Linked DNA regions of Homo sapiens: region 2 is linked to region 1. The links come from fine-mapping of genetic effects on gene expression. A gene starts in region 1. The other region holds a variant in brackets. All regions are shown on one strand. Distances are from middle to middle.

Region 1 (5,487 bases):
CCTTTGGGTTCACTGCCCCCTCCTGGACACTTCCCTCCCCCACATGGTGTTAACAGCAGATCAGAGCCTCAGCAGGTGTTCGCTTGGTGGTGGTAGTAAACGTGAGTGTGCCTGCGCACAGCGGCCTTTACCCCATCCTGATAGTCTGCAGCTGGAGCTCTCACAGGCTCTGGACAGCAGAGGAGAAGAAAACCTATGAAGGGGAGGAGTGGTGGAGGCAAGGCACAAAGGCTGCAGATTAGGGTTTGTAAGTGGACACATCCCCCAAAAGACAGGCAGTCCACGTTCAAGGCTGTTTGCCTAGCACAGCTTCTCTGGGCCCCCTAGGAGCTCGGCCTGCTCCAGGGTGGCTGAACCTGAGGAGGGAGCCTGCAGGGCTGCGCTCTCCACTGTCCCGCATTCCCGCAGTGGGGCTGTGGACTGAGTTACCTTTGTGTCCTGTGTTGGTTCCACAGGGATTGTGTGCACACTCTGCATTCCAGGGACACGTGGCTGAAGAAAGCAAGAGTGGTGAGGCTTGGAGAAGTACCCTACAAGGTAACTGGAGCTGGGGGGTCCCTGTGGGGAGTGGTGACACAGGCCTGTAGCTGAGCGGGAGAGCTGGGGGCAGAGAAGTGATGATGAGCCTCCCAGTCCTGCCCAGGATCCTGATCAGAAATGTCTCACTTTCCCGGCTTGAGCAGGATTCAAGGAGGAGAGAAACATTTAAATTGTCTTATTAATAAGACATTTGTAAGAAATGGATCTTCCAAAACACAAAAGAAATCTAGGCCAAAAAGTAGGCCTCAGACTCCTGTTGTGAATTCAAAGGTTCTACAGGTTGGAATTGAGTTACTGGGTCCTGGGAGGTCAGAGCCCTGCTTTATAGCAGCACGTTCTCCAGTCAGATTGCCCTTCTGTTTGGCAGTTCACTGAGCATTTTGCATGTATGTGATCTCTGTTGCCTCAAAAGCCATAGGAATTGGCATTATGATGCCCATTTTACAGATGAGAAAACTGAAGCTCAGGGCAAGTGACTTGTCCAAGTCCCCACAGTTAGTAAAATGGCAGAGCAGAGCCCAGGTGAGAATCCCAGGCTCTGCCTTAAAGCCAGTGCTCCTTTCACACTGTGCTGCGGCACTGTTAGGCTGGTTGCTCTTGAGGAACACGAACCGAGCGAGGTCCCACAGAGACTATTCACAGGACACACAGCTCCGTACGACCGGAAGTGTACAGTGGCTGATCACAGAGACCATTTACTTCTCATCAGACCCCAGGAGTCCTTGGGGGTTGCAAGACTCCGGGAAGCTGAGTGGGGAGTGGAGGGGCCTCCGCTTAGTGGGAAAGGCTGCAGGCGCTGGTCACAGTCACTGCCAGCAGCAGGCTGGAGTGGGCGATGCCCCCTGCCTGGGCCTGCAGGGTTGCTGAGGATTTTCTCTGCACCATCTCACCTGTCTTTTGTGCTGGAACCAGCATAGCAGTGTTCAGTTGAAATGTAACGTGAGCCACACATTTAAATTTTTTAGTAGCTACATTAAAAACCAAAAACAGGTGGAATTTTAACATTAAAATATATCCAGATATATCTAAAATACTATTTCAGCAGTAAGAAATATTTTAAAGTGTTGATGAGATATTTAAATCCATTTTGTTCCTAAGTCTCTCTAATCTTCTGTGTATTTGACTTTCTGTACCTTAGTTCAGACCAGCCACGTTTCAGGTGTGCAGTGGCCACACGTGACTGGTGGCTGTCATGGTAGCACAGTTCTGGAATCCCAAATCTCTCAAATTCACCCCTTGTTCTGATCCCCACCACCCCAGCTCCTGCCTCAGTATCTTTTGCTTGGGCAACAGCCACAGCCTCCTTCCCAGCCTGAATCCATTCCCCTGTCAGTCACTAGGCTCTTTCTGTGCATCTTGGCCATCCTTGTCCCACCTTGGCCAGCGCCTTTAGTCTGAGTCCCGCACCCTCCCCATGGTGCACAGTGATGTTCTGGTGCTCACTGCCTCTGCATTCCAGAGGACTTAGGCCCCAGGTCCCAGTGTTCTCCCACCTCTGTGCCCTGTGGGGTCCAGCCCTGTTCTCTTGGGCAACCCCTTGCCCCTTTAAGCCTCTGCTCAGGCGGGACCTGTTTTGAGCAGCCTTTCTTGCCTCCACTGTCCTCAGGGCTGGGCAATGGCTTGCCTCTGAGCTCCTGTTCCACCCTGTACTCATCACGCTGAGTCGTAGCTCTGTCTCTTCCCCTGCAGGAGCCTGAGCTCCTAAGAGCAAAGACTGTCCTCGCTCCATCCCTCCTTCATGACTGGGTCATGGCCTGGTCTCCAGGAGATCCCAGTGGAAGTTTACTGAACAGTGTGCTGGGTGAATGGCTTCTCAGAAAGGGACGGTTGTCAGAACTCAGAGTCCCTCTGTCCCTGAAGTGGTGACAGAGAGGGTGCGCCCAGAGATCATGGCAGGAATGGACATGAGAGCTCGCAGGCCACCCCCAACCTGGGGAATGGCTTTTCACATTTTTAAAGGGTTATAAGAATGAGAAGAATAAAGAATATGTGATGGAGGCCACGCATGACCCTTTACAGAACAAGCTTGTGGGCCCCTGCACTAGAGGAAGTCTGTATGCTGAGGCCCAGGGGCCAGCCCTCAGCCGCACGCCCATGCCTGACTCCTCTAAGAGTTACGTGACTCTGTCCTTGCCTGTCCTGCGCCCCTCTCACCACTTCACTCCCCAGGGAAGATCTTGGCCTTGGCCACTGCACGCTGTTGGGGAGCACACTGGGAGTCCTGAACTGTCAGTGCTTTCTAGGGCGTGTGAGCAGACATAGGTTATATGTTGAGACACAGGCTCTACTGATGGACAGTTACCTGAATTGTAAATCCTGGTTCTTGTCACTTACCAGCCATCAGCTCTTAAGTGACTTTGTCTCTCAGTCTCAGTCACTGCTATCAGTGATGACAGCACAGAATATAGGCTAGTGGATGAAAGTGTGGGCTCTGGCCCTTACGAGCTGTGTGACTTTAGGCAAATCATTTACCCCGTCTGTGGTGTTCATCTGTAAAATGGAAACAATAATAAGACCTACCTTGTGGGTTTGTTGAAAAAATTAAATAATAACATATAAAGCACTGAAGATAGGCTGGGCGCAGTGGCTCATGCCTGTAATTCCAGCACTTTCGGAGGCCAAGGCAGGTGGATCATTTGAGGTCAGAAGTTTGAGACCAGCCAGGCCAATATGGTGACACCCCATCTCTACCAAAAATATAAAAATTAGCTGGGCATGGTGGCGGGTACCTGTAGTCCCAGCTACTCAGGAGACAGGCACGAGAATCACTTGAATCCGGGAGGTGGAGGTTGTAGTGAGCTGAGATCACACCAGGGCACTCCAGCCTGGGCAACAGAGTGAGACTCCGTCTCAGGGGGATAAAAAAACAAAAAACACCGAGAATAGTGTCTGGGACAGAGAATGTTCCATAAATGTTAGCTAGTGCTTGTAGTAAGAAAAGGGGAGCAGCCGGGCACGGTGGCTCACGCCTGTAATCCCAGCCCTTTGGGAGGTTGAGGCGAGTGCATCACCTGAGGTCAGGAGTTCGAGACCAGCCTGGCCAACATGGTGAAACCCCCGTCTCTACTAAAAATACAAAAATTAGCCGGGCGTGGTGGCAGGCACCTGTAATCCCAGCTACTCAGGAGGCTGAGGCAGGAGAATTGCTTAAACCCAGGAGGCAGAGGTTGCAGCGAGCCAAGATTGCACCACTGTACTCCAGCCTGGGCGACAGAGCGAGACTCTGTCTCAAAAAAAAAAAAGGGAGAAAAAGCACCCCAGCTGGTAGGTGTGTTCTGAGGGTTCACCAGGTACCAGGCATGCGGCACTGAGCATGGTGCCTGGCCCGGTGCTGAGGAACTGGATGCCTTTGTTGTAAACGGTGGCCGTGTCCTCTGGTGCAGATGGTGAAAGGCTTTTCTAACCGTGCTCGGAAAGCCCGACTTGCTGAGCCCCAGCTGCGGGAAGAAAATGACCTGGGCCTGTTTGGCTACTGGCAGACAGAGGAGTATCAGCCCCCAGTGGCCGTGGACGGGAAGGTAAGGGCAGCATCAGAAGGGCTCAGGACCAGGCCGCCTTGTTCCCCTGCTGGCCAAATGCTGACTTGCTCACCCGACACAGGTGCCCCGGAACGAGTTTGGGAATGTGTACCTCTTCCTGCCCAGCATGATGCCTATTGGCTGTGTCCAGCTGAACCTGCCCAATCTACACCGCGTGGCCCGCAAGCTGGACATCGACTGTGTCCAGGCCATCACTGGCTTTGATTTCCATGGCGGCTACTCCCATCCCGTGTGCGTGAGGGGCCTTCGATGGAGGCTAAACACAGGGATGGGGAGGGGTGGCTCCAGAGATGGGGATGGAAAGCTGGCATGGGGCTGCTGGGAGTTGAGGCCTGGTGGCTCCAATTTTCAGGATGTTACACTGGATTTGCAAAGTCAGTGCTTTACCAATTCTGGCTTCCCTCCAGAGGGAACGGAGCCAATGAAACTGGCATCGTAATGCTGGATTAAAACGTTCTTCCCAGGTTTAGGGACTCACAGGCTAGTGAGCAAAAAACAGTCAGCATCTTTCCCCGGCAGCTGCCTGGTTAGTGAGCTCTGTTCCATGATGGGTGAGGCTGGATAGGGGCTTTCACCCCAGCTTTCTTCGGCAGAATCTGGGGAGGAAGAGGCAGTGCCAGCTTCCACAGGCCTGCCTTCTGCACGGAGGATGTGGGACACTGGCTGACCCGCGACATCCTTCAGGACCCCTAGTGCTCAGATGTGGCCCACTGTCTTCCACAAACTGGGGAGGGAGGAGAGGCAGAGCAGGCAGCAGGTTCGAGGGTTGACATCGCGTTGTGTCCCCACAGGACTGATGGATACATCGTCTGCGAGGAATTCAAAGACGTGCTCCTGACTGCCTGGGAAAATGAGCAGGCAGTCATTGAAAGGAAGGAGAAGGAGGTAAGCGCATATGCAGGACTGAGGGACAGCAGAAGCGGGAAGCAACACTCAGCGGGTGGCCTCTTCCTTCCCCAGGCCGCCTCCGTGTGCTCCCAGGCTCTTCCCAGCCCTCTCTGACATCATGGCAGGCACCCGAGGGAGCGAGCACTGAATACAGCAGGCTCCTGCCCACCCCGCAGACTATCACTGTCCCTGAGGAGCCTGGGTCCGGGCTCTGGGGTCTACTGCCCCTGCTGCCCACACCTGCCTCTGTCTTGAATTGCCTGTGTCCAGGTTCTGGAAGACCTCACCCACTAAAGATTTTGGAGTCAGTAACGATTAAAAAGTTATCTGTTTTTGTGGCTTTCAGGTATAGTATATCACTTTGTAAATCAGATCAATTTTTTGGAAGTGAGACTTGGTGTGAAGGAGAGGCTATATTCTAAAGTGGTGTATATATCTGTCTTTACATTCACAGTTTCCATCTTAATATTTTTCCTGAAAATGTCAGTGCTTAACACTTTTCTCCCACTTCATTTTTGCC
Region 2 (5,260 bases), 20 kb before region 1:
TTCTTCCCCCTTCTCTCCTCTGACTTCCTGTAGCGCTTCTAGGGAGTGTGATATGTCTGCCAGTTATTGTTACCATGCCACATACCCAGGCTTACTACCCTGTGACCTCTCAGAGGGCTGGAACCATGTGGGGTTCCTTTTCATATGCCCTGTAGCATCCATTGCAGGCCCTTTTATTTGGCAGAAACTGAACAAGTATTTTTGCAATGAATGAGCATTTATATTAATATGTTGTGAACAGTGATTATGAGCCCAGGGAACACTTGATTTTCTGCCTCCTAAGAAAGTTGAGGGGTGGGGAGAAGAGGAAGAACAGAGGGATAGTTTTTCATTTGCTTCATAAACAAATCCTCACTGCCAGTATCAGCTTTTCCAGCAGCCTCTAGTCCTGGGATGGGAGAGTAGTCCAGTAGAGGGCACAGGAAGGGACACGGGACAGCATGATGATTTTCCGCCATGATCCATCTCTTCTCCTTTTCTCTAGACTTCCCTTCCCGTCCCGCCCCGTCCCGTCCCCATCCCGGTCCCGTCCTTAATGGAGTCTCGCTCTGTTGCCCAGGCTGGAGTCTAGTGATGCAATCTTGGCTCACTGCAACCTCCGCCTCCCAGGTTCAAGTGAGCCTCCTGAGTAGCTGGGACTGTAGGTGCCCACCACCACGCCCAGCTAATTTTTGTATTTTTAGTAGAAACAGGGTTCCACCATGTTGGTGTCGAACTCCTGACCTCAGGTGATCTGCCCTGCTCAGCCTCCCAAAGTGCTGGGCTTACAGGCGTGAGCCATTGCGCCTGGCCTTCCCTAGACTTTTCTGAAGAATACCTCTGAACTTACTGCTTTCCAGTTGCCTCCCCTCACTAGTTGAATTCTATCTCCAGAGACATATACATAGAGATAGGCCACGATACTGCCAAGGAAAGCTCTGGGTCCCCCTTTCCCTCTCCCCTGAGCATTGACTGTGGTCATTTCTGCTATGTTCATTCTAAGGGGAAATTTTTATTGCTGGTGTTTTGAGAGAAAGTGGTACTCTAAAAAAAGAGTGTATTATTAGAGCTCAAGATTGATGATTGGTTATTTTAAATGTTTATACCAAAATCCTAGATAATATTCTCACTTGGTACCAAGTGCCAAAGTTTACACAAGTTAAAAGTAACTGGATACTCTAGACACATTTTATATATGAATTTGCAGAAATATATTACGTATCAGCAAGTACTTAGCCTTGAGCCATTGTTTAGCCAGCTACTTATCTATGTTATTATCTACTTAGCTAGCTAGCTGTCTATGTCTCTTGTTATTTATGACTCACCTATGTGTAGTTACATCCCTGCTTGAAGTTAGAATGCTATGAATTTCAGTCTCCTTACATCATATTTCTTAAAGATGGAAAAGAAGTCTGAGTAGGCTTATAGTAGGATATATAAATGGAGATTTTATTCTGTTCTTTCTGGCCTCCAACTGCACATATATCACACAGATATCACAGTTCTGGAACTCATTATTATTTTGGTGTCTTCTAATTTTTCCTTGTCATGTCCAGGCACAGCTATGTTTTCTTTCACACGATCTAGATTGTAGGTTTTTTAACAGCACATCTGGTAGTAATTAGACAGATGATCAGAGCACATCTTGATGAGATTTGGAACACATGTTGATGGAGGAAGTGAGGCTCAGAGCTTACTAATCATCTTTAAATAGTTGCAACAGATTCTCAATAAATAGGAGGGGTTTTAAAAATTCCATTTAGCTTGAATGGAACACTAGGATGTCTGAGTCTTCTTCATCTTCCTTCCTGTGGTCTTTACACAGGGACTTTCCAAGTGACCTCAAGAAGGCACACCATCTGAAGAGAGGGGCTACCATGAATGAAGACAGCAATGAAGAAGAGGAAGAAAGTGAAAATGATTGGGAAGAGGTTGAAGGTGAAACATCTTTCTTTGTTTTCAGAACTGTTTGGTTCTGTTTGTTTTTTTGTTTGATTCTGTTTGGAGTCAGATCACTAATTGCAATCCTTTTGTTTTCTTTTGAGCTAATTAGACCACAGATAAGGTTGTACTAGGGACTTGCTTTGATATATATGGAAAAACTCATGGCCAAGTTACCAAAGAAGGCTGTTTACTCTCTTCCTCTGGTGACTGTCAATGGGGTAGATATAAATAGAGAGGCAGCACTATTTAGGAGAAGGAGCACAGGCTTTGAAAGTAGTTAGAATTGGGTTCAGTGCTCAACTTTGCCACTTAGGTGGCAGTGTGAGTGAGTAATTTAATCTTGAGCAAGTAACTTCACCTCTCTGAACTGAGTTTTCTCATTGGTAACACTCTGTAAACACTGAATGTTTAGTGTGAGCCATTCACAGTATAGGCTGTAGGATTATTGTGGGGAAAAGAAAGTTTGCAAATGTAATGGGCCTAATGTATCATACACTCACAGTAAATACCAGCTAATGTTATCATCCCTGATTCCTTCTGTCTGGCCTGACTTTTCCTCACCTTTTTATTTTGAAAGTGTTCAAATTTATAAAAAGAGTGAAAAATGTAATATATGTCCTTCACCTAGGTTCATTAACATTTTGCCACATTGAATGTATGTTTCTCTCTGTAAATATTCATTGTGGAACCATTTGAAAATAAGTTGTAGATATTCTGATACTCCACTGCTGAATACTTCAGCCTGCATTTCCTAATAATTAGACATTCTCCTGCATGACAAAATGACCTCATCACACCTACGAAAATGAAAAATAAGTCCCCAATTGTTA[T/C]GAAAGCATCCTTTATGCCTGTTTCTTTTTCCATACCAAGATCCAACCAAGCCTTGTATTTGGTCTTTATGTCACTTTACTCTCTTAATATAGAGCAGTATTTCCCACCTACCGCCTTGTTTTGCTTTTCATAGCACTGCCTTTTTTGAAGGATCCTAGTCTTTTGTTTTGTAGACTGTCTCATGTTCTAGTTTTGTCTGATAAACAGTCACACATCTCATGGTGGTGTTAAACTTGTTTCAATATCCCCTGTATTTCTTGTAAACTAAGTCCAAAGACATGTAATTTTGATTAAACTTTTATTTTTTTTCCAAGAATCCTTCCTAGATGATGCTTTAAACCTCATCTTGCATTGATTAAGCCACCTCTAATGTCAGGTTGTTCCTCTTCTAGTCATGCTACCTTTAAGCTAGCTGTACTACCATGTCCTTTTGACATGGCCTCATTAGTCTTTGAGAACATTTTTGTTCAGCTTATACTTTTCTTGCTGTAGACTTGAAACCAGCCTTTTTTTCTTCAAGAAGCTGTGGTTCATTTTAATAGAGATTCATGTATAGAGACCAAGATCTGGCATTAGATGCATTCTTTGCCAGTAAGATGTCATGGCTTCTAGGCCCAGAGCCTCTTTTAAGGAACTTTTGCTAATGAAGTTTTCAATTAGATCCAGTTCAGCAAGTTCAGTCCTTCTCAGCTACTGTATACAAGCAACGTAGGGGGTGAAGAGATGAAAAGGATATATTTTTTGTCACTTACAAGTTTATAATTGAGAATGAAAGATGGACACCTGAGTCATGACTCTATACAAAGCAAATTGTGCTAATTGTTATTGTGGTAATACAGAATACAGAGAAAAGGAGATTATTCTCACTTGGGTTTTTTTTTTTTAAAGAGTTTTAAGTATATACATACATGCATGAGTGTCAGCTTTTTGATAGAGGGGTCTGTATCTGATTCAACCCAGTATCTCTATGCTTTAGGTTCTTTATCTAAAGACTGTCTGGGTTGTGTGGGTTAAATGAGACACACGAATATATAACACTCAGCACACTGCCCGGCACATGGTAGGACTCAGGGCAAGGCATGTCTAGGGGTCTCTGTGGGCTGTCTCCCTCACATTCATGCCTCACTTCCTCCTTCCCAGCAGAACCTTGATTCTGTTCAGTACAGTAGCTATTATTATTGTTATTACTATTACTGATTTTTAAAAATGCTTGTTGATAGAACTTAGTGAGCCTGTGCTGGGTGACGTGAGAGAAAGTACAGCCTTCTCTCGATCTCTTCTGCCTGTGAAGCCAGTGGAGATAGAGATTGAAACGCCAGAGCAGGCGAAGACAAGAGAAAGAAGGTAAGCTTAGGCCCTTGCTTCTAGGCTCCTGTCACATGCAGTAGGCAACAGCTGCTGCTTAGGAGGACTTTGGAGAAACTTGTAGGGGACCAGGACTGAGTATCAAAGTGGTCGAGAACCTTGGGTCAGGAACCTGATTTACCTTTAGAGACTTGAATGAGACACCTTCGTGTCCTGGCTGGGGCTGGTGAGGGATGAGGAGAGGGAACTCCTGTGTGCCAAGGATTGAGCAGGTCATCCGTTATCTTACCTAATCCTTAGAACAGTGTTGTGAATGAGGAGCTAAGTAACGTTCAGACGCTAAGTAACGTTTCAAGAGTCACTCAGCCAGTAATGGAAGAGCTGAGACCTAATCCTTCTCATTGACTTGGCATTCACATTTTCCTCACCATGTCATGCTGCAGGACTTGAGGCAGTGCCCGCCGTGGTAGGGAGCCCCTATCCTTCCCAGCATCCCGGAGTACCTCTGCAGCCTCTGATGGCTTGGGAATTCCAATGTGCGATGGGCACATTACTAGGCACAGAAGAGGGAGATAATACAAATCATTCAAGAAGTGTCAAGTTGTCTTGAAGATTAATGGGATACAGACTGAAAAAGAGATTTTACACTAGAACAGTGTCACATAAATGATGGTGTGTTAATTTAACATTAATAAAGGTAATGGTTGCTAAGGAGAGAGTCAGTAGTCGGAAGAGTTGGACAGCCAGAGAAGACTTCCTGGAAGAAGTGAGCTTTGAGGCATGTAGGTGAGGTGTGATCTGCTGCTGGTTGAGAGGAGGGTTGTCTGGGTACAGAATGTCCCAGGCCGAGGTTTGCTGGTGAGAAGGAGCCAAAGAGCCTGCAGGAAATAGCTGGCTTGCAGACGGACTTGAGTAGCACAGCCTTGTGTAGGGAAACAGGGAGAGTGATTCACTGTCATCCGAGGAGAAGGAATTGCCTGGGGGAGTGGAGTCTGGTTTCAGTTCCCCCCTTCATTCCCAGATTTTTCACTATTTGTTGCAGTGAAAAGATAAAACTGGAGTTTGAGACATATCTTCGGAGGGCGATGAAACGTTTCAATAAAGGGGTCCATGAGGACACACACAAGGTAAGGGCAAGGAATGATGGGGAAGGACTTTTCCTTGTCGGTGCAAAGAGCTTGTGCTCACCGAGGCTTTATTT

Evidence for each region. PIP is the estimated chance that this variant, and not a neighbour inherited with it, causes the effect.
Region 2: its variant is fine-mapped to the expression of XPC-AS1 in tibial nerve (GTEx, PIP 0.91).

What each region holds. Positions count from the first base shown.
Region 1 is chr3:14,147,385-14,152,871 of GRCh38, reverse strand. XPC-AS1 (XPC antisense RNA 1) reads right to left here and starts at 3,310. Exons shown (of 2, transcript XR_001740603.2): 1 at 3,270-3,310; 2 at 1-3,030. It overlaps XPC (XPC complex subunit, DNA damage recognition and repair factor), which reads left to right. Exons shown (of 16, transcript NM_004628.5): 11 at 456-537; 12 at 3,924-4,058; 13 at 4,141-4,310; 14 at 4,871-4,964. RefSeq lists enhancers at 1,517-2,017, 3,635-4,319.
Region 2 is chr3:14,167,095-14,172,354 of GRCh38, reverse strand. XPC (XPC complex subunit, DNA damage recognition and repair factor) reads left to right here. Exons shown (of 16, transcript NM_004628.5): 3 at 1,805-1,917; 4 at 3,975-4,098; 5 at 5,102-5,186. Among named protein-coding and RNA genes, the nearest start is that of XPC, 8.9 kb to the left of the region's middle. The variant T/C (reference allele first, on the strand shown) is at 2,754.